7 separate regions of the Homo sapiens genome follow, and all the other regions are linked to region 1. Evidence: fine-mapped expression QTL. A gene starts in region 1. Each other region holds a variant in brackets. All regions are shown on one strand. Distances are between the middles of the regions.

The links. PIP is the estimated chance that this variant, and not a neighbour inherited with it, causes the effect.
Region 2: its variant is fine-mapped to the expression of DEF8 in testis (GTEx, PIP 0.92).
Region 3: its variant is fine-mapped to the expression of DEF8 in whole blood (INTERVAL, PIP above 0.99).
Region 4: its variant is fine-mapped to the expression of DEF8 in whole blood (TOPMed, PIP above 0.99).
Region 5: its variant is fine-mapped to the expression of DEF8 in whole blood (TOPMed, PIP above 0.99).
Region 6: its variant is fine-mapped to the expression of DEF8 in spinal cord (GTEx, PIP 0.92).
Region 7: its variant is fine-mapped to the expression of DEF8 in whole blood (TOPMed, PIP above 0.99).

Annotation. Positions count from the first base shown.
Region 1 is chr16:89,946,554-89,950,619 of GRCh38, reverse strand. It overlaps DEF8 (differentially expressed in FDCP 8 homolog), which reads right to left and starts at 1,865. Exons shown (of 13, transcript NM_001242818.2): 1 at 1,806-1,865; 2 at 1,107-1,203. RefSeq lists a silencer at 1,736-1,835 and an enhancer at 2,516-2,855.
Region 2 is chr16:89,986,831-89,990,896 of GRCh38, reverse strand. It overlaps the pseudogene AFG3L1P. Among named protein-coding and RNA genes, the nearest start is that of DBNDD1, 31 kb to the left of the region's middle. RefSeq lists a silencer at 2,347-2,521. The variant TG/G (reference allele first, on the strand shown) is at 1,949.
Region 3 is chr16:89,977,377-89,981,442 of GRCh38, reverse strand. It overlaps the pseudogene AFG3L1P. Among named protein-coding and RNA genes, the nearest start is that of SNORA119, 26 kb to the right of the region's middle. The variant AAG/G (reference allele first, on the strand shown) is at 2,162.
Region 4 is chr16:90,080,380-90,084,445 of GRCh38, reverse strand. No RefSeq gene overlaps it. Among named protein-coding and RNA genes, the nearest start is that of PRDM7, 5.1 kb to the right of the region's middle. RefSeq lists enhancers at 1,232-1,886, 1,959-2,088, 1,887-2,542. The variant C/A (reference allele first, on the strand shown) is at 2,133.
Region 5 is chr16:90,031,411-90,035,476 of GRCh38, reverse strand. It overlaps DRC4 (dynein regulatory complex subunit 4), which reads right to left. Exons shown (of 11, transcript NM_001481.3): 3 at 3,981-4,066; 4 at 2,553-2,759. Among named protein-coding and RNA genes, the nearest start is that of GAS8-AS1, 3.5 kb to the right of the region's middle. The variant TGA/A (reference allele first, on the strand shown) is at 2,077.
Region 6 is chr16:90,055,037-90,059,102 of GRCh38, reverse strand. It overlaps PRDM7 (PR/SET domain 7), which reads left to right. Exons shown (of 11, transcript NM_001098173.2): 11 at 569-2,537. The coding sequence ends at 814. Among named protein-coding and RNA genes, the nearest start is that of PRDM7, 20 kb to the left of the region's middle. RefSeq lists enhancers at 1,009-1,058, 459-1,658. The variant C/T (reference allele first, on the strand shown) is at 2,405.
Region 7 is chr16:89,970,672-89,974,737 of GRCh38, reverse strand. It overlaps the pseudogene CENPBD1P and the pseudogene AFG3L1P. Among named protein-coding and RNA genes, the nearest start is that of SNORA119, 19 kb to the right of the region's middle. RefSeq lists enhancers at 1,127-2,110, 2,421-2,480 and a silencer at 1,801-2,280. The variant G/A (reference allele first, on the strand shown) is at 1,889.

The sequences.
Region 1 (4,066 bases):
GTCAAGAGTTCAAACCAGCCTGACCAACATGGTGAAACCCCGTCTGTACTAAAAACACAAACAAATTAGCTGGGCATGGTGGTGCATGCCTGTAATCCAGCTACTTGGGAAGCTGAGGCAGGAGAATCACTTGAACACGGGAGGTGGAGGTTGCAGTGAGCCGAGATTGTGCCACTGCACTCCAGCCTAGGCAACACAGCAAAACTCCATCTCAAAAAAAAAAAAAAAATCAGCCCTGATTTAGACTCTGGTTCTCCATTGTCTTGCCTATAAATCAGGGGGAACACCTACTTTCTGGGGTGGATGGAAGGGCTAAGGACTTGTTTATGATGTCAGTGAAGCCAGGAGCCCAGAGCTGCTCAGAACAGACTGGCACTGTCATCACATATGGTGACCAGCCCAGGAAAAAGGTGCAGGAGCTACGCCTGGGGAAGCCGCTGGAAACCTCCTGGTGTTTAAAACATGGCCAGAGGAGCGTCAAGGAAGGCACGCTGGCAGGGACACCTCCGTTCTGCCCAGCAGCTGTACTCTAGGCTACCAGCTCTCCTCCGGGCTGTGAAAAAAGGCATCTTTTATTTGCCTATTTACTGACAGTCAGTGCCAGCCCCAGGCCTGGCGCACGGGCAGGGGATGAATGAGGGGAGGCCGCTGGCCTCGCAGCCTTAGCTTCTGCTCACACAGACCTGGGGATGCCGGCCACAGTGGCCGACTCTGAGCAGAACGCCAGCCTGCCCCTCTCACCAGGCTCACCCCACCAGTTCTGCACCCAGATGTGGGACTTGGCCTCAGAAAGGAGCGGGCAGGAAGTGGAAGAGTGAAAGCAAGAGGTCTGGCCACCCCCTGCCCCTCCTCTAGAGCCCACTGCTCTCATCGGGGAGGACCCCACAACTTAGCAATGAAAGGAAGCCGAAGAAAGCCGGCGGGGTTCCGGGGCACGGAGGGACCCTGGGCCGAAGCTCAGGACACGCGGGATGCACGGACCTGGCCTCCCGCGTCCTGCCCGCGGCGTGACCACCAGGAAGCGGTGTCATCACTGCAGCTGCCACCCCGAGAACCTGAGAAGTCACCCCGGTGTGCGGAGTCAACAGCGTCCTGTCTGCCCATACCTGCATCGCCTGCCAGGGCCCAGGGGCTCGCAGGGACAGGATGGCCATTCCTCTAGGGCTGCTGGCCACGGAAGCCTGGCCGTGGGTTCGGCACCTGCTGCAGGGAGAAGCCACCCCAGCACTGTGCCTCCCCACCCACCACACCCGCGGGAGCTCGCCCGGTCTCCCGGGCTCCTCGGGGGCAGGTCTCTCCCACCCACCCGTTCCACCGAGGGGGAAACTGAGGCTCGGAGCAGCCCAGGGCGGGGGCACGGCCACGCGGGTCCCCTGAGCCGCCCGGGTGCTCCGCACGCAGCTGGTGTGGACGCCGGAGCAGCGGCGGCGTCCCCGGGGTGGGGCGGCCGAGGTCTCGAGGCCCCTGCGCCGGGCGGGCCGCCCTCCCAGCCCCGTCCCCGCCGGCCCCGACCTCGCCGGCCCCGTCCCCGCCGGCCCCGTCCCCGCCGGCCCCGTCCCTCCCAGCCCCGACCCCGCCGACCCCGTCCCCGCCGGCCCCGTCCCTCCCAGCCCCGACCCCGCCGGCCCCGTCCCCGCCGGCCCCGTCCCCGCCGGCCCCGTCCCTCCCAGCCCCGTCCCCGCCGACCCCGTCCCCGCCGGCCCCGTCCCTCCCAGCCCCGACCCCGCCGACCCCGTCCCCGCCGGCCCCGTCCCCGCCGGCCCCGTCCCCGCCGGCCCCGACCCCGCCGGCCCCGCGCCGCTCACCTGACCGCCGCCTCGCATCTGTCTCCCGGCTGCGCTGGATCCGCCCGGCCGCCCCGCTACGCTGGATCCAGCCCCGCGCTCGCTGCTGCCGCCTCCGGCGCGGAGGTTCATGGCACGCGGGTCGCGAGTCTGCGAGCCCCGGAGTCCGCCCGGCTGTTCCGCGGGCCTGACCTGGGGCTGCGCGTCCTGGGTTTCCTCTCATCGCAGAAGGCCTGTGGCTGAAACCCAAACCCCAACACGTTTAAAAAAAATGGGCGGGCGCGGCGGCTCACGCCTGTCATCCCAGCGCTTCGGGAGGCCGAGGCGGGCGGATCGCGAGGTCAGGAGATCGAGACCATCCTGGCTAACACGGTGAAACCCCGTCTCCACTAAAAATACGAAAAATTAGCCGGGCGCGGTGGCGGGCGCCTGTAGTCCCAGCTACGCGGGAGGCTGAGGCGGGAGAACGGCGTGAACCCGGGAGGCGGAGCTCGGAGTGAGCCGAGATCGCACCACTGCACTCCAGCCTGGGCGACAGAGCGAGACTCCGTCTCAAAAAAACAAAAAGGGTGGCTTTTAACACTTTTTTTAACCTCAGTGGTTGAGGAGGAAAAAGGAACAGAGAACCACCGTGTGCAGGTGCCGCCAGCCACCTGCAGGGCCCCGCGGGGGCTTCACGGCTGCAGAGGGAGGGACCCGGCGCGGCTCTACCCTCTTTACACAGGAGGACGCGCCACACTGCGCTCAGGAGGCTGCTCCATGCAGGCGCCGGGCAGCGGGACTTCGGAGGCAGCTGGTGTCCGCGGGCCCTGGCGTTATTCCTGCTTTCCCGTTGTTTACACACAGAGCAGGCCTGCTGCTCCCCGCCCCCGTATCCCTACTCTTAGGCTTCTCGCGTGGAAGATTCAGCTGCCCCCGCTTGTGCCCGCAGGGAGGAGCTGAGGACAGATGAAGGCCAGCATATGCGCCTGGTGCGCTTGCCCTGAGCTCGCGGGCTCAGTTTACCCTCCCTGCAGAAAGGTGTGGTTTTGGCTGCCTCTGGGGCTTGGTCCACTTTGTTCAGTGGGCATGGTGATGACAGTGCCAGTAACTGGAGGCCTCCCAAGTGGGAGCCACACACCACCTTGCAGAGACCAGCTCGGTCGGGGAGACCCTAACCCGGCAGCGCTAGAGGAACTAAAGACACACACACACAGAGATAGAGAGGTGTGGAGTGGGAAATCAGGGGTCTCACAGCCTTCAGAGCTGACAGCCTCGAACAGAGACTTACCCACGTATTTATTAACGGCAAACCAGTGATAAGCATTGTTTCTGTAGATATTAGACTAACTAAAAGTATCCCTTATGGGAAACGAAGGGATGGGCCAAGATAAAGGGATGGGTCTGGCTAGTTACCTGCAGCAGGAGCATGTCCTTAAGGCACAGATCGCTCACGCTATTGTTTGTGGCTTAAGAATGCCTTTAAGCAGTTTTCCGCCCTGGGTGGGCCAGGTGTTCCTTGCCCTCATTCTGGTAAACCCACGACCTTCCAGCGTGGGCGTCATGGCCGTCATGAACATGTCACAGTGCTGCAGAGATTTTGTTTATGGCCAGTTTTGGGACCAGTTTATGGCCAGGTTTTGGGGGGCGTGTTGCCAACACCATCTCATTTAACCCTACGGAAGCCTGGGGGCCAGCAGTCACCTACAGGACAGGCAACTCCATCGGCCCCCCCAAGGCCACATCGCTCAGAAAGGGTGCAGTGAGATTCCACCCCAGCTTAGGGTGGCTTCGGACGCCGTGTCCCTCCATGCACTCAGACCTGGAGGGAGACTGCCCTGAGCCGCCGCTCTATCTGCTGCTTCAAGGTCCCCAGTCCTAGAGATTCCACGTCCACCTGGCCTCTCTCCCAGCTCCTCCTTCTGGAAAGGCCTTCCCCATCTCAGCTCCCACCTGGGCCCCACAGTACATCCTCAGCCTGGCAGTGAGAGGGACCCTGGGAAGAAGTCGGCCCCCACCTTCACCTCCTGGCTCCTCTCCCCAACAGGCCAGGCCCACCCCCACCCCCACCTTCACCTCCTGGCTCGTCTCCCCAACAAGCCAGGCCCACCCCCACCGGGGCCCCTGCCTGGCTGAGCCTCTGTGGAGCAGTCCTCCCCAGTAACCCCAACACCTCCTCCTTGCCTCTGCTCAGCAGTCCTCAGTGATCTCTGGGAGGCAGGGCCCTTCCCCTCACTCACTCACCTTCTCCCTAATCACTCGTCACTGTCTGATGTCTTCGGTTTTGCACATTTTTCTTTATT
Region 2 (4,066 bases), 40 kb before region 1:
CGGTACCAGGAGGACCAGTGAGCATGGCTCCCTGAAACAGAATGGTGACATCGGGCTCTTAACAGGGGAGCAGATGATACACAGGTGAGAGAGCTGCTTAAACTGGTGACTTCTGAGATTGACTAAGAAGAATCCCATTAGGGATGGCTAAGGAGCTGCAGGGCAGGAGGGGGCCAGACTTGCCCACAGCACACTCCGTCCTACCCATGTGCTCCAGGAGAGGCACCCACCATGGCCGCACACACAGCCAGCTCTTCATGATGGATTCTCATGGGGGATGCCACAGGCAGAGGTAATTCTGGGAAATCACTGTACCTCATACCCAAGAACGGGAAACCTAGATGGGCCCTGACCCCACTAACTCTTTCCTGACATCCACAGCAGAGCACGAGGCCTGTGATGTAACACAGAAGCTGACAGAGCCCCCTCTCGCAGGAGCCCCTGCCTGCTGGGAAAGGGGGACCAACACACCACGTGAGGGGCCTTTCTTGGTACCTGACTGCCTCACCCACTCCATCATACAGATTTTCCCCAGCAAATACATGCATATGAAAAAAAAACTGTAATTTGTTCAGCAGCAATAGATATAAATTAAAAAAAAAAAAAGGATGCGATCGCTCACACCTGTAATCTCAGCACTTTGGGAGGCTAAGGCAGGTGGATCACCTGAAGTCAGGAGTTTGAGACCAGCCTGGCCAACATGGTGAAATCCTGTCTCTACTAAAATTACAAAAATTAGCTGGGCGTGGTGATACACAACTGTTAATTCCAGCTTCTCAGGAGGCTGAGGCAGGAGAATAGCTTGAACCCGGGAGGTGGAGGTTGCAGTGAACCAAGATCGCACCACTGCACTCCAGCCTGGGCAACAGAGCAAGACTCTGTCTCCAAAAAAAAAAAGGCCGGGCGCGGTGGCTCACGCTTGTAATCCCAGCACTTTGGGAGGCCGAGGCGGGCGGATCACGAGGTCAGGAGATCGAGACCATCCTGGCTAACACGGTGAAACCCCGTCTCTACTAAAAATACAAAAAAAATTAGCCGGGCGTGATGGTGGGCGCCTGTAGTCCCAGCTACTCGGGAGGCTGAGGCAGGAGAATGGCGTGAACCCGGGAGGTGGAGGTTGCAGTGAGCCGAGATTGCGCCACTGCACTCCCGCCTGGGCCACAGAGCGAGACTCCGTCTCAAAAAAAAAAAAAAAAAAAAATTCTGAAAGGCAAAGAGAACCACCCACTGCAGCACCTGACTATGAGCTGAGGTGAATGGCAGCTGCCAGTGGAGCTCCAACAGGAGCAGAAGGCCCCAGGCTCTGCACATCTGTCACACACACCTGCTTCCCAGCCTCATGCTCATCAAAGTGGAAAACAGGTCTGTCACCTTCTGGCTCCGCCCCAGGTTCCCGGTGCTTGGTATAATCATTATTTGTTGTTTGGAACAAACTGCCCAGTGAATGCCCACCCCATCGGGAGGTGCTGGGGGGTGGGGGTGCAAGGCCACTGCAAGGATCTGGATGTCAGCCTGGTCCAAAGCCCAGAGGTGAGTTAAAAGGGTGTGTGAATCGAGTTTCTGTGAATGCAAATATTTCTGGGAAAAAAAATCCATGGCTTCTCTCAGGCCCCCAAAGAGTCATGACCCCAAAATGGCACGAAGAGATAAACTTGCTCTGTGTGCCCAGCAGCCAGATCCAGCACCCTGACCCACACCACCTGCAACGCGCTGGCTGACTGCCCGCACACACGTAGCCGCCGTCTGGCTGCACACACCTAGCCGCTGGCTGGGTCACGGGCTTACCAAGAGGCAACTACATCTGATCCCAAGCCTGTTCATACAAGTTGTACCTGTTGTTCTATGTAATTAATATTAAATTAATAAAACAGGAGTAAGAACCGACTCTGACCCACAGCCATCTATGTGGAGCTCAGAGTATTACTATGTTTTCCAAAATCAATACCTT[TG/G]GAATTTTTGCTCCTAAGTCCTGATACTGCTTGGGATTCTTCAGGAAATTCACAAATTCCATAATTTCCAATTTGATTCTTCGCACCCAGCTACGTCTGCAAATAACACATCGATGTTGCTTTTTAAGATCTTGGCTGCTGTCTCACCAACACCGAAGAGGCCCCCTCCTCGTCTACTGCGCCTGGATCCCATAAGGCCCCTCCTGGCAGCATAGACGAGAATGCCAACCAGGAGAAGGGTGGGCACCAGACTTCACAAGAAAGAGCTGGAAAATCCAAGAGAACTACTTGTCACACTCAGGAGGTCAGAAATAGCACCTTCATGCCAGGCACGGTGAGTCACGTCTGTAATCCCAGCACTTTGGGAAGCCACGGTGAGAGGATCTCTTGAGCCCAGAAGTTCAAGACCAGCCTGGGCAACGTGGCAAGACTCCGTCTCTAAAAAAATTTATAAAAATGACCGGGTGTGGCGGCTCACACCTGTAATCCCAGCACTATGGGAGGCCAAGGCAGGTGGATCACCTGAGGTAAGGAGTTCGAGACCAGCCTAAACAACCTGGTGAAACCCTGTCTCTAGTAAAAATACAAAAATTAGTTGGGCATGGTGGCGTGTGCCTGTAGTTCCAGCTCCTCAGGAGGCTGAGGTAAGAGGATTGCTTGTGCCTGGGAGTTCAAGTCTGCAGTGAGCCATGACTACACAACTACACTCCAGCCTGGATGACAAAGCAAAACTCTGTCTCTTAGAGGAGACCGCTCTAGGACTTTGTGTTGCTACACAAAAGGTAGCAGGGTTTTTTCCTTTTTTTGAGAGAGGGTCTCACTGTCACCCAGGCTGGTGGGCAGTGGCATGATCACAGTAACCTTGAACTCCCAGGCTCAAGAGATTCTCCTGCCTCAACCTCCTGAGTAGCTAGAACCACAGGCATGCATGCCACCACAACAGATAATTTTTTAACTTTTTATAGATACGCAGTCTCACTATGTTGCCCAGCTGGTCTCGAACTCCTAGTCTCAGGTGATCCTCCCTCCTCAGCCTCCCAAAGCACTGGGATTACCTCTGTGAGCCATCACGCCCGGCCCTCGGCCTCTTTTTTTTTTTTTTTTTGAGAAGGAGTCTCACTCTGTCGCCCAGGCTGGAGTGCAGTGGCGAGATCTCGGCTCGCTGCAAGCTCCGCCTCCCAGGTTCACACCATTCTCCTGCCTCAGCCTCCCGAGTAGCTGGGACTACAGGCGCCCGCCACCACGCCCGGCTAATTTTTTGTATTTTTAGTAGAGACGGGGTTTCACCATGTTAGCCAGGATGGTGTCGGTCTCCTGACCTCATGATCCGCCCGCCTTGGCCTCCCAAAGTGCTGGGATTACAGGCGTGAGCCACCGCACCCGGCCTCTTTCTTTTAAATGTGTCAAAGTCCATCAAGCACGAGGCCTCTCCAATTCTGAAGGCTCTAGTCACAGGCATTTCTATCTCCCTGATGGAACCTGTGGCTGGCTTGGTGGGGCAGGGAGAGTGACCACCCACCACCTCCTCCACCTCCTCCACCTCCTCCACCTCCTCCACCTCCTCCACCTCCTCCACCTGGCCAAGCAGCCCTGCTGGAGCTTACACCACAGTGTCTCCCCCGGGAGGTGCCGCCAGCAGACCCAGCAAGGCCTCCTCACATCTAGGGCCAACTGGGTTGTTTTGTCACAGGAAGACACCAAATGTCCGCCTGGTTTATTTTTGTCTTTGCTCTTGCTCTTCCAAGGCTCGAGGCCATCCCTCCTCCAGCGGCTCCACACTCACTTTCAGCCCCACATACAACCAGGCATCCTGGCAACTCAACAAGCAAAGACAGAACCCAAGTCAGCAATAAACAGCACCCAGATGACATCCGGGAGCTCCATCCAGCAGGAGACCACAGGCACTTCGGGCCCTGCCACTAGAATCTGAGAGAGAATCTCCAGAATTCTACCTGCCTCACCTTCTCTCACCCCACTGCAGCCCCTACTCTGTGCTTAAACATACGTCTCAAAGAAACCGCCCACACCACTACGATTCCAATTTTTACACCCTCCTGGCTAAAGCTGGTACTGGATTTGTACTCTCTCTCGGTTCAGTTTCCAATTCAGGGCAGAAG
Region 3 (4,066 bases), 31 kb before region 1:
ACTAAAGGAGGCCAAGGTGAGAGGACTGCTTGAGCCCAGGAGTTCGAGACCAGCCTGGGCAACGGTGGGTGACCCCATGTCCACAAAAAATTTAAAAAAAAATTAGCCAGGAGTGGTGGTGCAAGCCTGTGGTCTCAGCTGCTCTAGAGGCTGAGGTGGGAGAATCATCTGAGCCTGGGAAGTCAAGGCTACAGTAAGCAGTGATCGTATCACTGCACTCCAGCCTGGATGACACAGTGAGACCCTATCTCAAAAATAATAATAATAATAAAATCCAGATAGAAATCTCAGCACATTTTTATTTTTTTTTAATTTTTTTTTTTTTGGAGACAAGGTCTTACTTGGTCACCCAGGCTGGAGTGCAGTCGCACGATCATGGTTTACTGCAGCCTCAACCTCTCGGGCTCAAGCAATCCTGAGTACCTGGGACCAGAGGTACACACCACCATGCCTGGCTTTTTTTTTTTTTTTTTTTTTTTGTAGAGACAAGGTTTCACTATGTTGCCAAGGCTGGTGTCAAACTCCTAGGCTCAGGCAATCCTCCCACCTCCCAAAGTGCTGGGATTACAGGCATGACCCACTGCACCCGGCCTCAGTACATTTTTAGAAACTAATTTCTTTGAAACTTATGAACTAATTCAACAGTTCACCTTTAAACAAGCAGAAAGATTGATATGGGTTTAAATTTATGTGTTCCCCCAAAATTTCCATGTTGGAACTCAATCCCTAAGGTGAAGGTATTAAGAGATGGGGCCCCTGGGAGGGGATTAGGTCCCAAGGGCTCTGCCTTCCCGAATGGGATTGGTGCCCTCACAATCTGTTGCCCAGGTTGGAGTGCAGTGGTGTGATCACGGCTCACCGCAGCCTCGACTCCCAGCTTCATGCAATCCTCCCGCCTGAGCCTCCTGAGTAACTGGGACTACAGGCACGCACCACCACGCCTGGCTTATTTTTGTATTTTTTGTGGAGACAGCGTTCATGTTGTCCAGGCTATGATCTTGTACCTCCAGCCTCCACAACTGTGAGCAGTAAATGTACCCTGTTTATAAATTACCCAGTCTGATGTATTGTTACAGCAGCAGGCGCAGACTAAGATGCACACAAACCTTCTGCATCCGCCTCCACCAGGCAACGTTATCCTGCTTCCCTCCTCTCCTGCCTCCGTCTCCTCCAGACTCAGCATTCTCTAGTTCACCAGTCTCTGAGAGAAAACAAAGTAAGACTTCACAAAGCAATTACATATGATTTTCCAGAGAAAGAAGATTCAGAAAACAGAAAAACACCTTCCAACACACAATTTTAATAACACCAGTGCCTTCTGGAAATAAAGAGACAACAGGAAAAGGATGAGGCTGGGGAGATATTGCTGAGAAGTAGCTTCAGATACATCTAAAATCCCTAAAATTTCACCTCGCTGGCTTCATATTGAGCTTTAATAGTAAACTTTTTTGGGGTAACAGTCCCAAAACTGGCTGTTATTAGGGGAAAGAAAGAAAGGAAGAAAATGTTAAGACAGACTGGTATGGGTGGTCCCCCTTCTCAAGAGAACCAGGGAACACAAACCACCTGTTCTAAGCAGAGTCTGCCTCTCCTCCAAAAAATCTGGCCTCCTACGTATATTTGTGTCCCACGGACCTACCAGCCTCTTCCTGTAATGTTCCAGGACAAGTTCCAGAACAAGTAAGCCATGACACTGTCCACTTCACAAATACAGTGCTACTCCAACAGCTGCAAAATAACACCATGAAAGGCCAGAGAAGGCCAAGGTGACCCCAGGAATGGCAAACATATTACAAGATGGAGTAAAAATTTGCAAAATTTTAAGGACAAACATGAGTCTTCAAAGAAACATTCCTTGGCCGGGTGCAGTGGCTCATGCCTGTAATCCCAGCCCTTTGGGAGGCCCAGGCGGGCAGATCACGAGGTCAGGATATCGAGACCATCCTGGCTAACACGGTGAAAACCCGTCTCTACTAAAAATACAAAAAAATTACCCGGGCATGGTGGCGGGCGGCTGTAGTCCCAGCTACTCGGGAGGCTGAGGCAGGAGAAGGAGGAGAATGGCGTGAACCCAGGAGGCAGAGCTTGCAGTGAGCCGAGATTGTGCCACTGCACTCCAGCCTGGGTGACAGAGTGAGACTCTGTCTCAAAAAAAAAAAAA[AAG/G]AAACATTCCTTTCGTAGCAAGGCAAGTCACCACACCTCCCAATATGACTTACGTGTTTCTTCACCCCATGCTCACCGGTACACAAGCAGGAGACATTTCACAGGGGAAACACAAAATACTGACTTCGCCAATCCCAAAACCCAGTCCACACCATCACACCATGATATAATTTTTAAATGATTTGTCGAGGCTTAGGATCTAAACCGGTTGAGAAGGTGCTGGTGACCTGGGAAGGATGGGTACCGCCCAGGAGCAAGCTCAGGGAAGACGATGTCACCATCACACACTCACAGGCCCACCTGCTTATCAGTTCCCAAGGAGATCAGCCCATTCAGTGAATGCTTTAAAAGTACTCAACTGTAAAACTTCACAGTCTGATTTTTCAAACTGGCCCTTTTACCTTTTTTTGGTGCTGTTGATGTTTCTCAGTTTGTGTTCCTTCCACTCCTCTTAAAGTATTTCTCAAACCCTGAGGGACAAAATGATGAGGTTCTAGTATTTCTTTTTTTTTTTTTTCTTTTTTTTTGAGACAGAGTCTCACTTTGTCACCCAGGCTGGAGTGCAGTGGCACGATCTCGGCTCACTGCAACCTCCGCCTTCCGGGTTCAAGTGACTCTCCTGCCTCAGCCTCCTGAGTAGCTAGGATTACAGGCACCCGCCACTACACCCAGCTAAATTTTGTATTTTTGGTAGAGACGGGGTTTCACCGTGTTGCCCAGCTGGTCTCGAACTCTTGACCTCAGGTGATCTGCCCGCCTCGGCCTCCCAAAGTGCTGGGATTACAGACGGTGGCGCCCAGCCTGGTTCTAATATTTTAGAAGACAGAATCACACCAAGAAAAGCAACCGTACTGTCAAGACGATATAGAGAAAGTGAGAGAGACGCCAGTTTTCCCTCCTCCTGCCTCTCTTCTTGCTTCATACAATCGGCATGAGCCCTCAGGTCCTAACACTGAGGGAAGTGCAGGGAGCACCTTCTACTCTGTGGAGACACAGGGTCTCCAGGGGCTTCAGTGAACACTGTCCCTGGACACAAAGCACAAAGCACAGGTCCATGGCCTACAGAAGGACTCCAAGTGGGCAAGTGTGCTCTGAGGTAATGCCAGTCTGCACATTGTTTCTGTTCTGCTTTCCAAACATGAGGCTTAGCTGGTCCTCAGAGTCAGATACGCAGAAACCAAGGTTTGTTCCCATACCTTCCAAAAGATTCATCTAGCACCTTCCTTTGGAAAGAGCTTTTCTCTCACCAGCTTTAGTGAGATATCAACACCATAAAGACATGGAGAAGGTGCTGGATGTTGTGTGGCTCGATATGGAAGCCAGGAAGGGGTAGGATGGGGCGGGGTGGAGTGGGGTGTGCCCTGAGTTGTCTGGACCCTCGCCCCCTGGTCACTCACTGTAGAAGTCACACTCTGAGGAAGCCACTCAGTTCCTGTAAACCTCATGCTGTTAATGATGGTGGATGAAAGACAGGTACCTTTGGGTGGTTTTGAACACAGCCACCAGGAAAATAACGTCGGTCTTGCCTGCAGAGTCAGCTTCTGAACGTGGATCCCCTGGAAGCACTGGAACAGGAGGCCAGATGAGCTTTCCTAGCTTCTTCTGCAATGCAACACCGCACATTCTCACTGGCCATAACCACTGGAGCAAGCAGGGTGAGGTGTGAGCTTATCGCCTTAAATACCCCATTAGAAATATGATTCAATAGAGTAAACAGGAGCAAGCTCACTGCAGAAATGCACTGCAAATGTTTATAGCTATAGCCTCCAACAGCAAGAAAAAACTCCCCCAAAAAACAAAAAACACGGCTTAGAAACTGAGGCAATTTATTTAGTAACTTGAAATATTGCAGCTTCAAAAACAAGACTGTAAGACTAAAACATAAAATTGTGTAAAATTTAAA
Region 4 (4,066 bases), 130 kb before region 1:
CCCAGCTACTTGGGAGGTTTGAGGTGGGAGGATCACTTGAGCCCACGAAATAGAGGTTGTAGTGAGTCATGATTGTGCCACTGCACTCCAGCCTGGGAGACAGAGTGAGGCCCTGCCTCAAAAAATAAAACAATTGCTCATAGGAGTATGGGTTTATTTCTGGACTCAGAATTCAGTTCCATTGATCTATTCCATTGATGATGCCAAAATCATGTTGTTTTTATTAATGTTGCTTTGTAGTAAGATTTGAAATTTGGAAATGTGAGCCTCTGAGTTGGTTTCTTTGACACTATGTTGGTTATTCTGCATCCCTTGAAATTTCATATAAATGATAGGATCAGCTTGTGAATTTCCGCCAAAAGTTTTCTTGAATTTATTTCAGCAATGTTTTGGAATTTTCCATGTATGAGTTTTTTTTTTCCCCCAAAACAGAGTCTCGCTCTGTCACCCAGAGTGCAGTGCAGTGGTGCAACCTCGGCTCACTGCAACCTCCGCCTCCCGGCCTGTAGTCCCAGCACTTTGGGAGGCCGAGGCGGGCAGATCATGAGGTCAGGAGATCAAGACCATCCCGGCTCACACAGTGAAACCCCGTCTCTACTAAAAATGCCAAAAAATTAGCCGGGCATGGTGGCTGAGACTACAGTCTCAGCTACTCAGGAGGCTGAGGCAGGAGAATGGCATGAACCCGGGAGGTGGAGCTTGCAGTGAGCAGAGATCACACCACTCCACCACACCACTGCACTCCAGCCTGGGCGACACAGCGAGACTCCGTCTCAAAACAAACAAACAAACAAACAAACAAACAAACAAAGCACTATGTCTAGGTATGACTGTTTTCAGAAGAGGTGTCATACTGGTATAACATATCATGGCATATCGTAATACTGATATGACACCCACAACACTGCTGTGACGTTCACAATGGAGATGATACCGGCAAGACTGCTATGGCACCCTTAAAACTGATGTGAAGCCCGCAAGATTCATGACACTCCTAAGACTCATATGACACCCTTAATAATGATATGACACCCATAAGGCTGATATGATGCCCATAAGACTGATGGGACACCTGCAACAGTGATATGACGCCCACGATACAGACAAGACACCCGCAATATTGATGACACTCACAGTACTACTATGACACCCCTAAGACTCATATGACACCTGTAATACTGATATGACAGCCGCAATACTGACATGACAGCAGGGCGCTTGGTACACAGCTTCCACTGACCTGGATTTGGATTGGTTTGGCCTCTATAATGAAGTTTGATGTCTCTGCTTTACTGACAAGGTATTAATGTGGTTGTTTATAATTTACAATAATTTCCTTCTTCTAGGATTATTGCAATAGCAAAGTTTAACTTATCCCTTCTCTTAGATTCCCCAGCAGTTACAGCAACTTCACACAAAATACTCCTATGTATTTTATCAAAGCAAAGACAGCCTAAAATTTTTTTTAATTTAGAAAAAAAAAGCAGCAGGGCATGGTGGCTCAGGCCTGCCTGCAATCCCAGCACTTTGGGAAGCCAAGGCAGGTGGATCACTTGAGGTCAGGAGTTTGACACCAGCCTGGCCAACATAGTGAAACCCCATCTCTACTAAAAATACAAAAACTTAGCTGGGCGTGGTGGCGGGTCCCTGTAATTCCAGCTATTCGGAAGGCTGAGGCAGTAGACTCGCTTGAACCTGGGAGGCGGAGGTTGCAGTGAGCCGAGATGGCGCCACTGCACTCCAGCCTGGGCAACAAGAGCGAAACTCGGTCTCAAAACACACACACACACGCACGCGCACGCGCACACGCACACACACACACACACACACCAAACCAAAAAAAACGAGCACTGATCCGGGGGCGCCTGTTTTCTCGGCCTCAGGCTGTGGCGCCTTCCCGTCCCCAGCCTCCTGACCGCGTCTCCTCTCCCGGTACCAGGGTCTCTCCCCAGAAACAAACTCACATCCATAACCTGCATCTTGGCCTGCGCTGGGGGTGACCAGCCCAAGCCCTCATGAGGGGACGCTTTTATTAATATAAAGTGAGGTCCTGCTACAAACGGCGGACAGGGAAACACGGCCGCGCTCCCGCCGCTACACTCAACGGCAACAGGAAGCTTTTTCCTCATCTT[C/A]GCCTGGGCGGCCCCAGGTGTCCCGAAGCTGCAGCAGCGTCTCCCTGTCTCACTGTGGACGCGGCCCCAAGTGTCCCCATGTCTCCCGAGGCCGCAGCCTCTCCCAGCCGCGTCCTGAGGGAGGAAGCTCTGTCCTCACGGTAAACGCCCCGCAACGCCGCCTTGCGGATCAGATACGGCTCAAGCGCGCAGCGCTCGGGTTTAGCAGGGGCTGGGCGCCCCCTCGCGGCAGCCCTCGGGAATCTCTGAAATTCAGCCTCCAGATTACTCCGGGCCATGATTTTGGAAATTTCAACTGAAATCGAGCCCACCATCACATGCCTTGATCAGAACGCATGGAGATTTTTAACAAGTAAAATAGATGGCCAGTAGACAAAGGTCAATGGATTTTCTTTTTCTTTTTCTCTTTCTTATTTTAGAGACGGAGGCTTGCTCTGTAGCCCAGGCTGGAGAGGCAGTGGCATGACCTTGGCTCACTGCAGCCTCCGCCTCCAAGGATCAAGCAATCCTCCCGCCTCAGCCACCCAAGCGCTGGGATTACAGGCGAGAACCTCCGCGCCCAGCCCTAGCTGATTTTTTTATATCACCAATAATGTATAGGAATAATTTGAATTTAATGAATTAAATTTTGGGTGTGCTATTGTAAATGATATTCTTTAAAATTTCAATTCATTGAGTATAAATCTAACAAAAGACAAACAAATATGCATTCAGGAAACTGAATCATGGTTGAGAGGAATAAAAAATATATAAATAAATGCAGATAGTCCTCGTTTAGAAACAATAACTTACTATTGTTATCTTTACCACAAAGCTAAAGTAATGAAGAGTGATATTGGTGACGGAATAAGCAAAAAGATAAATGGAACACAATAGAGAACCCAAAAGACCCGAATAAATACAGTTAACTGATTTTGTCATGGGGCAAACGCAATTCAATGGGGAAAGAAAAGTCTGTTCCACAAGTGGTGACAGCACAACAGAAACCATAGTGGGGGAATGAACAAAGACACAAACTTCACGGGTCAGCCAAAAAATCACTCAAGATAATCTATAGACTTAAATTTCCAAATATAAAATAGTAAAAGTTATAGAAGAAAACCTACATGGATTTGGGTTGGTGATAAACTTTTAGATACAATAGCAAAAGCTAGTCCATAAAAGAAAAAGAAATTGATAATGTGGACTTTATTAAAATTTGAAATGTCTACTCTGTGAAACATCCTGTTACAAGAATCAAAAACAAAGCCACAGACTGAGAGAAAATATTTATAAAACAAACCTGAAAAGGACTTATATGCAAAATATACAAAGAAATTCTAATGCTCAACAAGAACACAACACAATTAAAAGGTAGACACCTCACTAAAAATGATATAAGACAGCAAACAAGCATCCAAAAGAACGCTCATGGCACTTGTCAAGAGGGAAAAGCAAATTAATGCAACAATGGTATACCACTGAGCATCTACTAAACTGACTAAAATCTTTTTTTAATGCAATAAAAATTACAACAGGAGGCGGGGCACAGTGGCTCATGCCTGTAATCCCATCAGTTTGGGAAGCAAAGTCAGGAGGATCAACTGAAACCAGAAGTTCAAGACCAGCCTGGGCAACATAGTGAGACCCTCATCTTTAACAAAAATTAAAAAAAAAATTAGCCAGCCCTGGTGGCACATGCCTGTAATCCCAGCTGAGGTGGGAGAATTGCTTGAGCCTGGGAGGTAGAGGCAGCAGTGAGCAATGTTCATGCCACTGCACTCAGATTGGGCTACAGAGCAAGACTCTCTCTCAAAAAAACAAATAAATAAATAAAATTAAAATAAGTTGCAACAGGAACTCTCATTCAATGATAGTGGAATGCATAATGATACAGCAACTTCAGAAAACAATACAGCAGTTTATATTAAAGTTAAACATGCTCTCACCATAGA
Region 5 (4,066 bases), 85 kb before region 1:
ACAGACGTCGTGAGCACTGAACCCGCTTGGTTCCATCGCCAAACCATCCCACAGCCTGAAGAGCAGCAGCCACATCCACACAGAGCTGTGGGATCTTTCCAGGTGCCGTGTGTAGCTTCCAACCTGCTGCACTGCTGCCTGAAGCAGCATATTAAAAGGATTCATTCCTGTCATCCCAGCACGCTGGAGGCCAAGGCAGGAGGATCACTTGAGGTCAAGAGTTCAAGGGCAGCCTAAGCAACATAGCAAGATCTTCTACAGAAAATTTAAAGATTGCCGGGCACAGTGGCTCACGCCTGTAATCCCAGCACTTTGGGAGGCCGAGCTGGACAGACCACCTGAGGTCGGGAGTTTAAGACCAGCCTGACCAACATGGAGAAACCCCGTCTCTACTAAAAATACAAAATTAGCCGGGCATGGTGGCACATGCCTGTAATCCCAGCTAGTCGAGAGGCTGAGGCAGGAGAATAGCTTGAACCCGGGAGGCAGAGGTTGTGGTGAACTGAGATTGTGCCACTGCACTCCAGCCTGGGCAACAAGAGCAAAACTCCATCTCAAAAAAAAAAAAAAAAAAAAAAAAAAAAGATTAGGTGGGTGTGGTGGCTCATATCTATAGTTCCAGCTACTTGGGAGGCTAAGGCAGAAGGATCACTTGAGACTAGAAGTTCGAGGCTGCAGTGAGCTATGATTGTACCATTGCACTGCAGCCCGGGAGACAGAGTGAGACCTCATCTCTAAAAATAAATAAATATATAGTTTTAATGAACAATTATTATATATTTAAATAAACATTATATATTTAAAATTTGCATAAAAAAATAAATTATTTTTAAAGCAGTAATTTTTCTTTTTTTTGAGACAGACTCTCACACTGTCGCCCAGGCTGGAGTGCAGTGGCACAATCTCGGCTCACCGCAACCTCCGTCTCCCAGGTTCAAGTGATTCTTCTGCCTCAGCGTCCCGAGTAGCTGGGATTATAGGTGTGCGCCACCACGCCCGGCTAATTTTTGTATTTTTAGTAGAGACGGGGTTTCACCACGTTGGTCAGGCTGGTCTCAAACTCCTGACCTCGTGATACACCCTCCTCGGCCTCCCAAAGTGCTGGGATTACAGGCGTGAGCCACCGCACCCGGCCTAAAGCCATATTTTTACCCAACAGGAAACTCTGATTATGTAACAATATCATATCCAGGACCTGGGTTAAGACCAGCTAATTCTGGAGGGCTCAAGACTTCGGCACTCTCAGGCTTTGCTGCGAAGTCAGCAACGTCACCAAGTTTCTTCCAGATTCAGTGGAGGCTGGACTGCTTCCAGGCGTGAGGCAAATGTGTTCAGAAAGTCTCCTCAACCCAGCAGCCAGGAAGAACCTTAGTGAGACACATCTCTCCTCTGCCCAAGTTCTCAGAGGGCAACAGACTCCACCAGGGTCAAAGTCCCAGTCCCCACCACGGCTTTCGAGGCGGACGAGCTCTGACCCGTCTCCAGTCCCCACCACGGCTTTCGAGGCGGACAAGCTCTGACCCTCTCCCACAGTCTCCTCCTGGTCACTCTGAGCTTTCCCACTGGCCCATCCCGTCTCCCAGCCGGTCAACTGCTTGTACAAAACCGCACCCCACCTCTCCCCACTTCGATCCTTCTATGGCACTCTTCCCCACCAGATACTCTGTTGTATCTGGCACGTTTATTTTGTCTTCCAACTCACCTGTTGTCTCTCCTTTCTAGACCAACAGCCCCAGTCGGGCAGGCGTTTTGTCAGAGATCAGATCAGGACCTAGCAGCTAATGGACACTCAGCAAATGATCTCTTTCCTTTTTGTTTTGTCTCACTCTGTCACCTAGGCTGGAATGCAGTGGCACAATCCTAGCTCACCACAGCCTTGACTTCCTGAGCTCAAGGGATCCTCCCGCCTCAGCCTCCCAAGTAGCTGAAACTATCGGCATGTGCCACTACACCAGCTAATGTTTTCTTTTAAATTTTTTAGACATGGGGTTCAACTATTTCACCCAAGCTAGTCTCAAACTATTGGCCTCAACCACTTCTCCCACCTGACCCTCCCAAGTGCTGGGATTTTGGGTG[TGA/A]GCCACTGAACCAGGTGCACAGATGAATTTTAATGGTGCCCTGGAAACCCCCAGCCTCAAAAGTAAAAATCAGACCAGCTTGTGTGACAAACTGTCACAGTGCCCAGGAGTCAACACACTGGATATTTTAATGGTTGGTTTGCATTCTACTAAATGCATATGATGCTATTCCCTAGGAAAAGTCTCTGGGTGTCAGGTGTCAGCAGCACATGAAAGATCCTAAGCTGGATTTTTTCTCTTCGGTGACGTCAATTTTTTGCTCAGGTCTGAGACAGAATTGTGTACTTGGTCCCAAAATGGGGTTTGTTTGGATGCATGCTTTAAAAAATTTTTTTTCAACAAATTGCAAAAATGCAGAAAGTCTTATGCAGAAATATGAATTCCCAGTTGCTGTTGAATAAACAGGAGTTCATGCAGCACTAGGCTTGCCGTCCCAACAACCTGTCAGCCTCCAGGTGCCCCCGCCACACCTACCAGCCGCAGGTTCTTCACCACCACCTCACTGGCCAGCTCCTGCTCCTTGAGCTCCACCTTCAGTGCCCGCATGTCCTTGCGCAGCACACTCTCCTGTATGCGGTGCTCTTTCTGTGCCAGCTTCATGACTACAGTGCCCTCAGCCTTCATCTCTGTCAGGTTGTTCTGGTGCTCATATAGCAGGTGCTTCACTTTCTGCTTGTACACCTGCAGGGCAATGGGAGTACCATCTGCTCACCTGCACCACACCTCCTCACCTTTCCGTACCTGTGCACACCTGGTCACCCATAGCACACCTGTACCACACCTCCTCACCTGTCCATACCTGTACACACCTGGTCACCTGTACCACACCTCCTTACCTGTCCATCCATACCTGTACACACCTGGTCACCCATACCACACCTGCACCACACCTCCTCACCTGTCCGTACCCGTACACACCTGGTCACCTGTACCACACCTCCTCACCTGTCCATACCTGTACACACCTGGTCACCCATACCACACCTGTACCACACCTCCTCACCTGTCCGTACCCGTACACACCTGGTCACCTGTACCACACCTCCTCACCTGTACATACCTGTACACTCCTGCTCACCCACACCACACCTGTACCACACCTCCTCACCTGTCCATACCTGTACACACCTGGTCACCTGTACCACACCTCCTCACTTGTACATTCCTGTATACACCTGATCACCTGCACCGTACCTGTAACACACCTCACCTGTACATACCTGTACCCCCCTGCTCACCTGCACCACACCTGTACCACACCTTCTCACCTGTCCATACCTGTACACACCTGGTCACCTGTACACCTCCTCACCTGTAAATTCCCGTACACACCTGGTCGCCTGCACTACACCTGTACTACACCTCCTCACCTGTACATACCTGTAGACACCTGGTCACTTGCACCTACCTGCTCACCTGCACATACCTGCCCCACGTGCTCACCTCCCCACACCTCACCTGCACATACCTCCTCACCTGGCCACGCCTCCTCACCTGCACACACATGCTCACTTGCATCCACCTGCTCACTTGCATGCCTCACCTTTACACAGCTACACATGCCTGTTCACCTATGCAAACCTGTACACTTGAGGCACAGAGCAGGACACCAAGGCTGGGAGGTGAGGTGCATCCCCAGCTCATGGGGTATTAAGTGGCAGAGCTGAGTTGCAAACAGGCCAGTCTGCCCCCAGAGCCCATATTCCTTCCATGTTGTGGAGGCAGCATTTTAAACCCTCAGGACCTGCAGGGTCTCTCCCTCAGGCTTTTATAAAAAACACCTTTAAGGCTGTGACTCCCAAAGCCAAGAACAGAAAATGTCCCACCTGCACCCTCACTGGATCCAGCTCCTCTGGGGCTCTGTGGTGACCAGGTTAGCACGTGCAGGCCGGCCCCACTCACCTTGATCTCCACCTGGTGCCTCTCCTCGGCTTCTTCCATCTCCCGGTCTTTGTTCCGCAGCTCAGCCTTCTTCTCCTCCAGCTGCC
Region 6 (4,066 bases), 110 kb before region 1:
AGGATACTCAAATTCAGATTTGCTAACACATCTCTTTAACCACATTTGTGGATCTCCAGGCTGAGTGCTCCTAATAGATCCTTTTCCCCTCTTAGGAAGTCACTAAGGACAATCTCACCTAAGTCATCAAGAGTGTTATTTCTCAATAGAATAAAATAGCTGAAAACCTCGCGTCGCAAAAGTGCCCAGGGCCCAGGGAGGGAGCATGTGGCAGAGGTGATCAGGGAAGGCTTTACAGGACTTGGAAGATACCTGTGGCATGGGGGAAAGGTCACTGCAGTTCCATCTATGTAAGGAATGATGCTGCCCCTGATGCTGCTTGAGGTTACCCAGAGTCTGGCTGATACGTAGAAAAGGCCCAAGATGTGGGATTTCTGGATTTTTTAAGATGTAGTGAATAAAAGTGGAATGGAAAAATGGACTGTAAAGGTCCATCCAGCACTTGGTGGGAGAGAGCTTGCATTGTTAACATATGAAGAATGACTGGTTCTTCATTTGATCTTCATACCTTCATATGTAGTAAGGCCTGAACAAAACATCTACCCTGACCAAAAACTTCCTCTTTCAGAACCAAAGCCAGAGATCCATCCATGTCCCTCATGCTGTCTGGCCTTTTCAAGTCAAAAATTTCTCAGTCAACATGTGGAACGCAATCACTCCTCTCAGAACTTCCCAGGACCATCTGCAAGAAAACTTCTCCAACCAGAGAATCCCTGCCCAGGGGATCAGAATCAGGAGCGGCAATATTCTGATCCACGCTGCTGTAATGACAAAACCAAAGGTCAAGAGATCAAAGAAAGGTCCAAACTCTTGAATAAAAGGACATGGCAGAGGGAGATTTCAAGGGCCTTTTCTAGCCCACCCAAAGGACAAATGGGGAGCTCTAGAGTGGGAGAAAGAATGATGGAAGAAGAGTCCAGAACAGGCCAGAAAGTGAATCCAGGGAACACAGGCAAATTATTTGTGGGGGTAGGAATCTCAAGAATTGCGAAAGTCAAATATGGAGAGTGTGGGCAAGGTTTCAGTGATAAGTCAGATGTTATTACACACCAAAGGACACACACAGGGGGGAAGCCCTACGTCTGCAGAGAGTGTGGGAGGGCTTTAGCCGGAAGTCAGACCTCCTCAGTCACCAGAGGACACACACAGGGGAGAAGCCTTATGTCTGCAGAGAGTGTGAGCGGGGCTTTAGCCGGAAGTCAGTCCTCCTCATTCACCAGAGGACACACAGGGGAGACGCCCCAGTCTGCAGGAAGGATGAGTAAGTCATTAGTAATAAAACCTTATCTCAATAGCCACAAGAAGACAAACGTGATCACCACACACTTGCACACCCCAGCTCTGAGGTGGCTTCAGCGAAAGTCTGCTAACCCCTTACATTCCCCGAGAGTGTAAAGAGATCGGAAATAACTAATTAAACAAATCCGCCACTTTCATGACTAGAGTTGAGGAAGAACAGGGGATAGTTCTGTAAGTGTTCGGGGGACGTCAACATGTGTGGTTGTTTCCCGCACTGATCCCCTCCATTTTTTGTGTTTTGCCTCCTGTTCTAATTAATTTTGTCTCCATACATATCTGAACCCCAAGTGTGTACCTCATTCTTCCCTTATCACTGAAGGAAGGAAGAGTCCAGAAGGGCCACAGAGAACTCAAACGTTCAGTTCAAGTCTCCACAGGAATTCAACCCCAGAAAGACATAAACTTGGAGTCCATCTGGTTTAATTATTGGAGAATCGATTCCCAAGTCCAGGAAGAGAAATGTAGGGTTTTACAGAGTCGCAGCAGGAAAGAGAGCTCCCTGGTCTCCTGGGAAGTGTGACCTCTTCTAATGGACCCCTCTCCTCTGCTGCCATACTCCCCCTTGGCTCCCCCTGTCTCCTCTCCTGATTTCCTCCAATCTCTGTAGCCCCAGAAGTGAACGCCAGACAGGAACACGCATGTGTGTATATATGTGTTCACGTGTGCTATGTGTGTTAAGCCTGCATGCATGGGTGTGGGGGTATGTGCCCTCTGTGTACGTATCTGTGTGAGTGTGGGGGTTTCAAGGGTGTATTAGGAATAACGCTCAAAATCCTAAGGAAATTGAATACTCTGAGAGAAGAGAGACAGACCCTCTCATACTGTTTTATATTGTTTTATACTCAGAAAAGGAAAAAGAAGCAAAACTAAAGGCAGGTAGCCTGGCGCCTAGGAACCAGACCTGAAACCAAGGAACCAGACCCGAAACCAGGCCTGGGCCGGCCTGACCTAAGCCTGGTAGTTAAAATTCGACCCCTGACCTAGCAACTGATGTTATCTATAGATTATAGAAAGACATTGTGAAACTTCCCGGTCTGTTCTGTTCCACTCTGACCATCGGTGCATGCAGCCCCTGTCACCTACCCCCTGCTTGCTCAATCGATCA[C/T]GACCCTCTCACGTGGACCCCCTTAGAGTTGTGAGCCCTTAAAAGGGACAGGAATTGCTCACTCGGGGAGCTCGGCTCTTGAGACAGCAGTCTTGCTGATGCTCCTGGCCGAATAAACCGCTTCCTTCTTTAACTCTGTGTCTGAGGGGTTTCGTCTGCGGCTCATCCTGCTACAAGAGCACTGGTTCAATTAGCTTTTAATATTTAACCTAACTACTCAGTCAGTGCTGAGACAGTTGTAATGGAGGCTGGTGTTAGTGAGACCTGGCCTGCCACAGCTACACTTAGCTCTCTTTCCTTTTCTTTTTTTTTTTCTGAGACAGAGTCTCACTCTGTTCCCCAGGCTGGAGTGCAGTGGTGTGATCTCAGGTCACTGCAACCTCCGTCTCCTACATTCAGTGATTCTCCTGCCTCAGCCTCCAGAGTAGCTGGGATTACAGTCACCCACCACCACACCCTGCTAATTTTTTGTATTTTCAGTAGAGATGGCATTTCACCATGTTGGCCAGGCTGGTCTCGAATGCCTGACCTCGTGATTCACCCATCTCAGCCTCCCAAAGTGCTGGGATTACAGGTGTGAGCCACCGCACCAGGCTCACTTAGCTCTTTTCTTCTACTAAAACATAATCTGAGAAGTAAAAATAAAATCATAAGCCCTCTGTATTATTCCATTTTCACATTGCTATAGAGAAACACCTGAGGCTGGGTAATTTATAAAGAAAAGAGGTTTAGTTGGCTCATGGCTCTGCTGTATAGGAAGCATAGTGGCTTCTGCTTGTAGGAAGGCCTTGGCAAGCTTCCAGTTATGGCAGAAGGCAAAGGGGAGGGAGACATCTCACATGGTGGGAGCAGGAGCAAGAGAGAGTGAGGAGGGCGATGTCTCACACTTCTAAATGACCAGGTCTCATGAAAACTCACTCGCTGTCATGAAAGCAGTACCAAGTGGGGATGGTGCTAAACCATTCATAAGAAATCCACCCCCATGATTCAATCACCTCCCACCACACTTCACCTCCAACACCGGGGATTACAATTCAACATGAGACTTGATGGGGACGCAGATCCAAACCATATCATTTCAACCCTTGCCCCCCAGATCTCATGTCCGTCTCCCATTGCAAAATACAATCATGCCTTCCCAACAGTCCCTCAAAGTCTTAACTCGTTTCAGCATTAACTCAAAAGTTCAAAGTTCCAAGTCTCATCTGACACAGGCAAATCCCTTCCACCTATGAGCCTGTAAAATCAAAAACAAGTTATGTACCTCCAAGACACAATGAGAGTACAAACACTGGATAAATATTCCCATTTCAAAATGGAGAAATCACCCAAAAGAAGGGAGCTACAGGCCTCATACAAGCCCAAAACCCAGCAGGGCAGTCATTAAATCTTAAAGTTCCAAAATAATCTCCTTTGACTCCATGTCCCACATCCAGGCATGCAAGGGGTGGGCTCCCAAGGCCTTGGGAAGCTTGGGCAGAGCCACTCTCATGGGCTGGCATTGAGAAGCTGAGGCTTTTCCAGGTACAGGGTGCAAGCTATTGGTGGGTCTGGAGGATGGTGGCCCCTTTCGCATAGCTCCAATAGGCAGTGTCCCAGTGGGGACTCTGTGTTGGGGCTCCAACCCCACATTTCCCCTCCTCTCCACTGCCCTAGTAGAGG
Region 7 (4,066 bases), 24 kb before region 1:
GACTGCATGGAAGCCTCCACAGCATAAGCTTCCATGAGGAGAGCTGTTAGGGTGTTTTTTGTTTTGTTTCTTTTTTTTTTTTTTTGAGACAGAGTCTCACTCCCAGGCTGGAGTGCAATGGTGCGACCTTGGCTCACTGCCACCTCCGCCTCCCAGGTTCTAAGCGATTCTCCTGCCTCAGCCTCCCAAGTAGCTGGGATTACAGGTGCGTGCCACCACACCGGGCTAATTTTGTATTTTAGTAGAGACGGGGTTTCTCCACATCAGTCAGGCTGGTCTCGAACTCCCCACCTTAGGTGATCTGCCCGCCTCAGCCTCCCAAAGTGCTGGGATTACAGGCGTGAGCCATCGTGCCCAGCCGTCTCTACTAAAAATACAAAATTAGCCGGGAATGGTGGTATGCGCCTGTAATCCCAGCTTCTCGGGAGGCTGAGGCAGGAGAATCGCTTTGAACCTGGGAGCCGGAGGTTGCAGTGAGCCAAGATTGCGCCATTGCACTCCAGCATGGGCAAGAGGGAAACTCCGTCTCAAAAAAAAAAAAAAAATGCAAATTGCTGCCACCTCTCCAACCTCTGCATGTCACCCTCAGTCCACAAGTCATAAAGCTCTCAAAAGAGAGCAAGCCAGTGGGGCAGAGCCCTTGCCTGTCGTGTTCACCAAGATATTCCCTGGTAAATGATTAACAGATCTATCTCTAATAAATGAGAAGCAGATGAATGATCCAGTCCGGGAAGGAACTCAAAGATCATTCAACGTCCGTCCTCCCTTCATAAAGGGGTCTATAGCAGTTCAATGATTCAAAACTCTCCTGGGCTATATTAGGCTGTACACACCGATATTGCATATCGCTGACTTTCAATATGTGTTAGCAACCAGGAGGACCTCTGCAATGCTGATGCCACATGGCCAAAGCTGAAAGACTGCTTTCACTCATATTGCTAGCAACTAAACCATCATACACTTTCCCAAATGAATGGAGATGGCGGGGGGGGGGGGGAGTTCATTCCTGAAGACAGGACAGAAATACTCATGGGATCCTTCTTCTTATTTTACTGCTGTCTGAAAACCATGACAGCTTTCTGGGATCAAAATTCAAAAACTCTGCATTAGAAAAACAATTCAACGTTACTGCTGCTCACTGGGATGTATCAATACAAAAATAAAGCAATCTTAAAATGCAGAATATTCCGGTCTTAGACCCTAACCCTATAAAACAGGGTTATGAGCAGGGCACGGTGGCTCAAGCCTGTAGTCCCAGCTACTCCAGAGGTTGAGAAAGGAGAATCGCTTGTGCCCATGAGTTCGAGATCAGCCTAGACAACACAGCGAGACTCCGGCCCCGCTCCCAAATTTTTAAAAATAATATAATAAATAACAATAGGGTTATAGCGATATCTACCTATAGGGCGGGTATAAGACTTAGATAATCCGCGTAAAGCCCTTAGCTCTCAGCATTAGCTGTTAACGACAGTGACTGGTCGCTGTATAAAGAACAGTTTGCAAAACCCTTTCACGCCTCTTATCGTGTCTGGTTCACTGAGTAACTGCGAGGTGGATAAAGCCGAACGCCGCCGAGCCCAGGAGGACACGGGCTGGCACGCGGGGCCACAAAGCTGGTTCGCGAGGAGGTGGGACTCAAGCGCAAATCGCTCAACGCCCGGCGCTTTACAAAGCCGAGCAAGGAGGCTGGAGGTCCCGGTTCCGATGTCCGAGGGGACCGGGCATCCAGTAAACAGCGGGAATTCCGCAAGAAGTGGGTGGAAGAGGTAGCGAGGAGAAGAGCAGGAGTTTGGAGACGGAGGAGGCGGGGGGGCGGGAAGCTCTGGCCAGGTGCTGTCGGCCTCACTGCGCGGACCAGGTCAGGGCCGCCGCCCTCCCGCGCTCCCCC[G/A]CGGCCGGCGCAGGCGAATGGCGTCACGCGGCGTCCAGAGCAGACCAGCCGCCCGGCACCGGCGGAGAGCGCCTCCCCGCTCACCTGTCGGGCCTTGCCCAGGGCCCTCGCGCTGGTCTTGGCCGTCCTGCCGCCTCCTGGGCCACCACATCGCCACAGCAAGGCCAGCGGCCTGGCCACCGCTCTACTGCCGGCCGCCGCCAGCAGCCGGTACCACATCCCCAGACCCAGATCCCGCGCCGCCCGGGCGCGCGCATGCGCAATGGGAGAGCGGTCCTAGGGCCCCGCGAGCGCAGGGAGGACTCGCGCAGGCGCGGCAGGGGCGCGGCGCCGGCTGGGGCCCCGTCTTGGGTGTCCACGCCGTCGCCTGACCGTTCGAGGGTTTGATCGCCAGCGCAGCCTCGCCCTGCCCAGACAGCTGGGCCCTAAGGGGATAGCCAGCGCCTTTAGACTTATCTTAAATCGGGCATCGGCATCAACACTTATTTCTGGGGTCCTCCATGGAAAGCAGCTCCCGAAACAACACCCGCCCGGTCCGCCCTCCGCTGCACTGGAAAACCGCCCCTGGACGTTTCTGCCGCAGTGTCCCCCTCACGGAGTTCCGTTTGTCTGCTTGGTCGGTTGTTCTCTGGAGCCCCAGGACCCAGGCCGCTTGTATGTGCCTGCGGCCGCACGGCCCCAACACGCGGACTTCGAGCGGTACCGGGAGACCCGCGCGGCCTCCTCGGAGTGGACAGTGAAGCAGCAGCTGGGCTAGGCAGTGGGGCTGGGCCTGCCCATGGGGACCCGTCCACGTCTCCAGGACATCAGCCTGAGCCTCTTCGCAGCCTCGTTTTCTGTTGACCGAGTTCTGCAAGGGGACGTAGAGGAACCACAGCGTTCTTGCGCTTGAGACCGCTGTGATTTTCTGACATTTTGGAGGCAGAAATGCCTGGGGAAAGGCCCACAGATGCAACTGTCATCCCTAGTGCCAAAAGGGAACGGAAAGCGATTACCCTTGACCTCAAATTGGAAGTGTTACGACGATTTGAAGCGGGTGAGAAGCTCAGTCAGATCGCAAAGGCCTTAGATCTTGCTATCTCTACAGTGGCGACCATTCGAGATAGTAAAGAAAAAATCAAAGCGAGTTCACAAATAGCTACTCCTCTGAGAGCCTCTCGGTTGACTCGCCATCGAAGTGCAGTGATGGAGAGCATGGAGCAGCTGCTGAGCTTGTGGCTGGAAGACCAGAGCCAGCCAAATGCGACCTTGAGCGCCGCCATCGTTCAGGAGAAGGCTGAGTTTGATGACTTACAGCGTGAACATGGCGAAGGTTCTCAAACGGAGAGGTTTCATGCAAGTCAAGGGTGGCTTGTGAGATTCAAGGAGTGCCACTGTTTGCCCCACTTCAAGATGAACAGCGCAGCTCCCAGCAACAAGGACATGTACACAGAAATGCTGAAAAGCATCATCGAAGAAGGTGAGTACACCCCCCAGGTGTCTTTAACGTAGATGAGACGAGACTTGATTGGAAGAGAATGCCCAAAGGAACGTTTATTTCCGAGGAAGAGAATGCTGAGCCAGGGTTTAAGTCATCCAAAGATCGCTTGATGCTGCTGCTTGGTGGCAGTGCAGCTGGGGACTTTAAGTTGAAGCCCTTACTGGTGTACCGCTCAGAAACCCGCAAGGCTCTGAAGGGTTCTTGAAGCCCAGTTTGCCCGTGATTTGGCGCTCCAACAGAAAGGCTTGGGTGACCAGGAGCATCTTTCATGAATGGTTCACTTACTTTTTTTGCCGTTGAAAAATACAGTGCCCAAAATAATCTCACCAACAAAGCACTGCTCATACTAGACAGTGCGTCATGCCACTCTGTAAATTTGAGCGACCTTTCTGATAACTAAGAGTAGAATACCTTCAGGCCAGGCGCGGTGGCTCACGCCTGTAATCCCAGCACTTTGGGAGGCCGAGACGGGCGGATCACCTGAGGTCAGGAGTTCGAGACCAGCCTCAACATGGAGAAACCCCGTCTCTATTAAAAATACAAATTTAGCCGGGCGTGGTGGTGCAGGCCTGTAATCCCAGCTACTCGGGAGGCTAAAGCAGGAGAATTGCTTGAACCTGGGAGGCGGAGGTTGTGGTGAGCCGAGATCGCGCCATTGCACTCCATCCTGGACAACAGGAGTGAAACTCCGTCTCAAA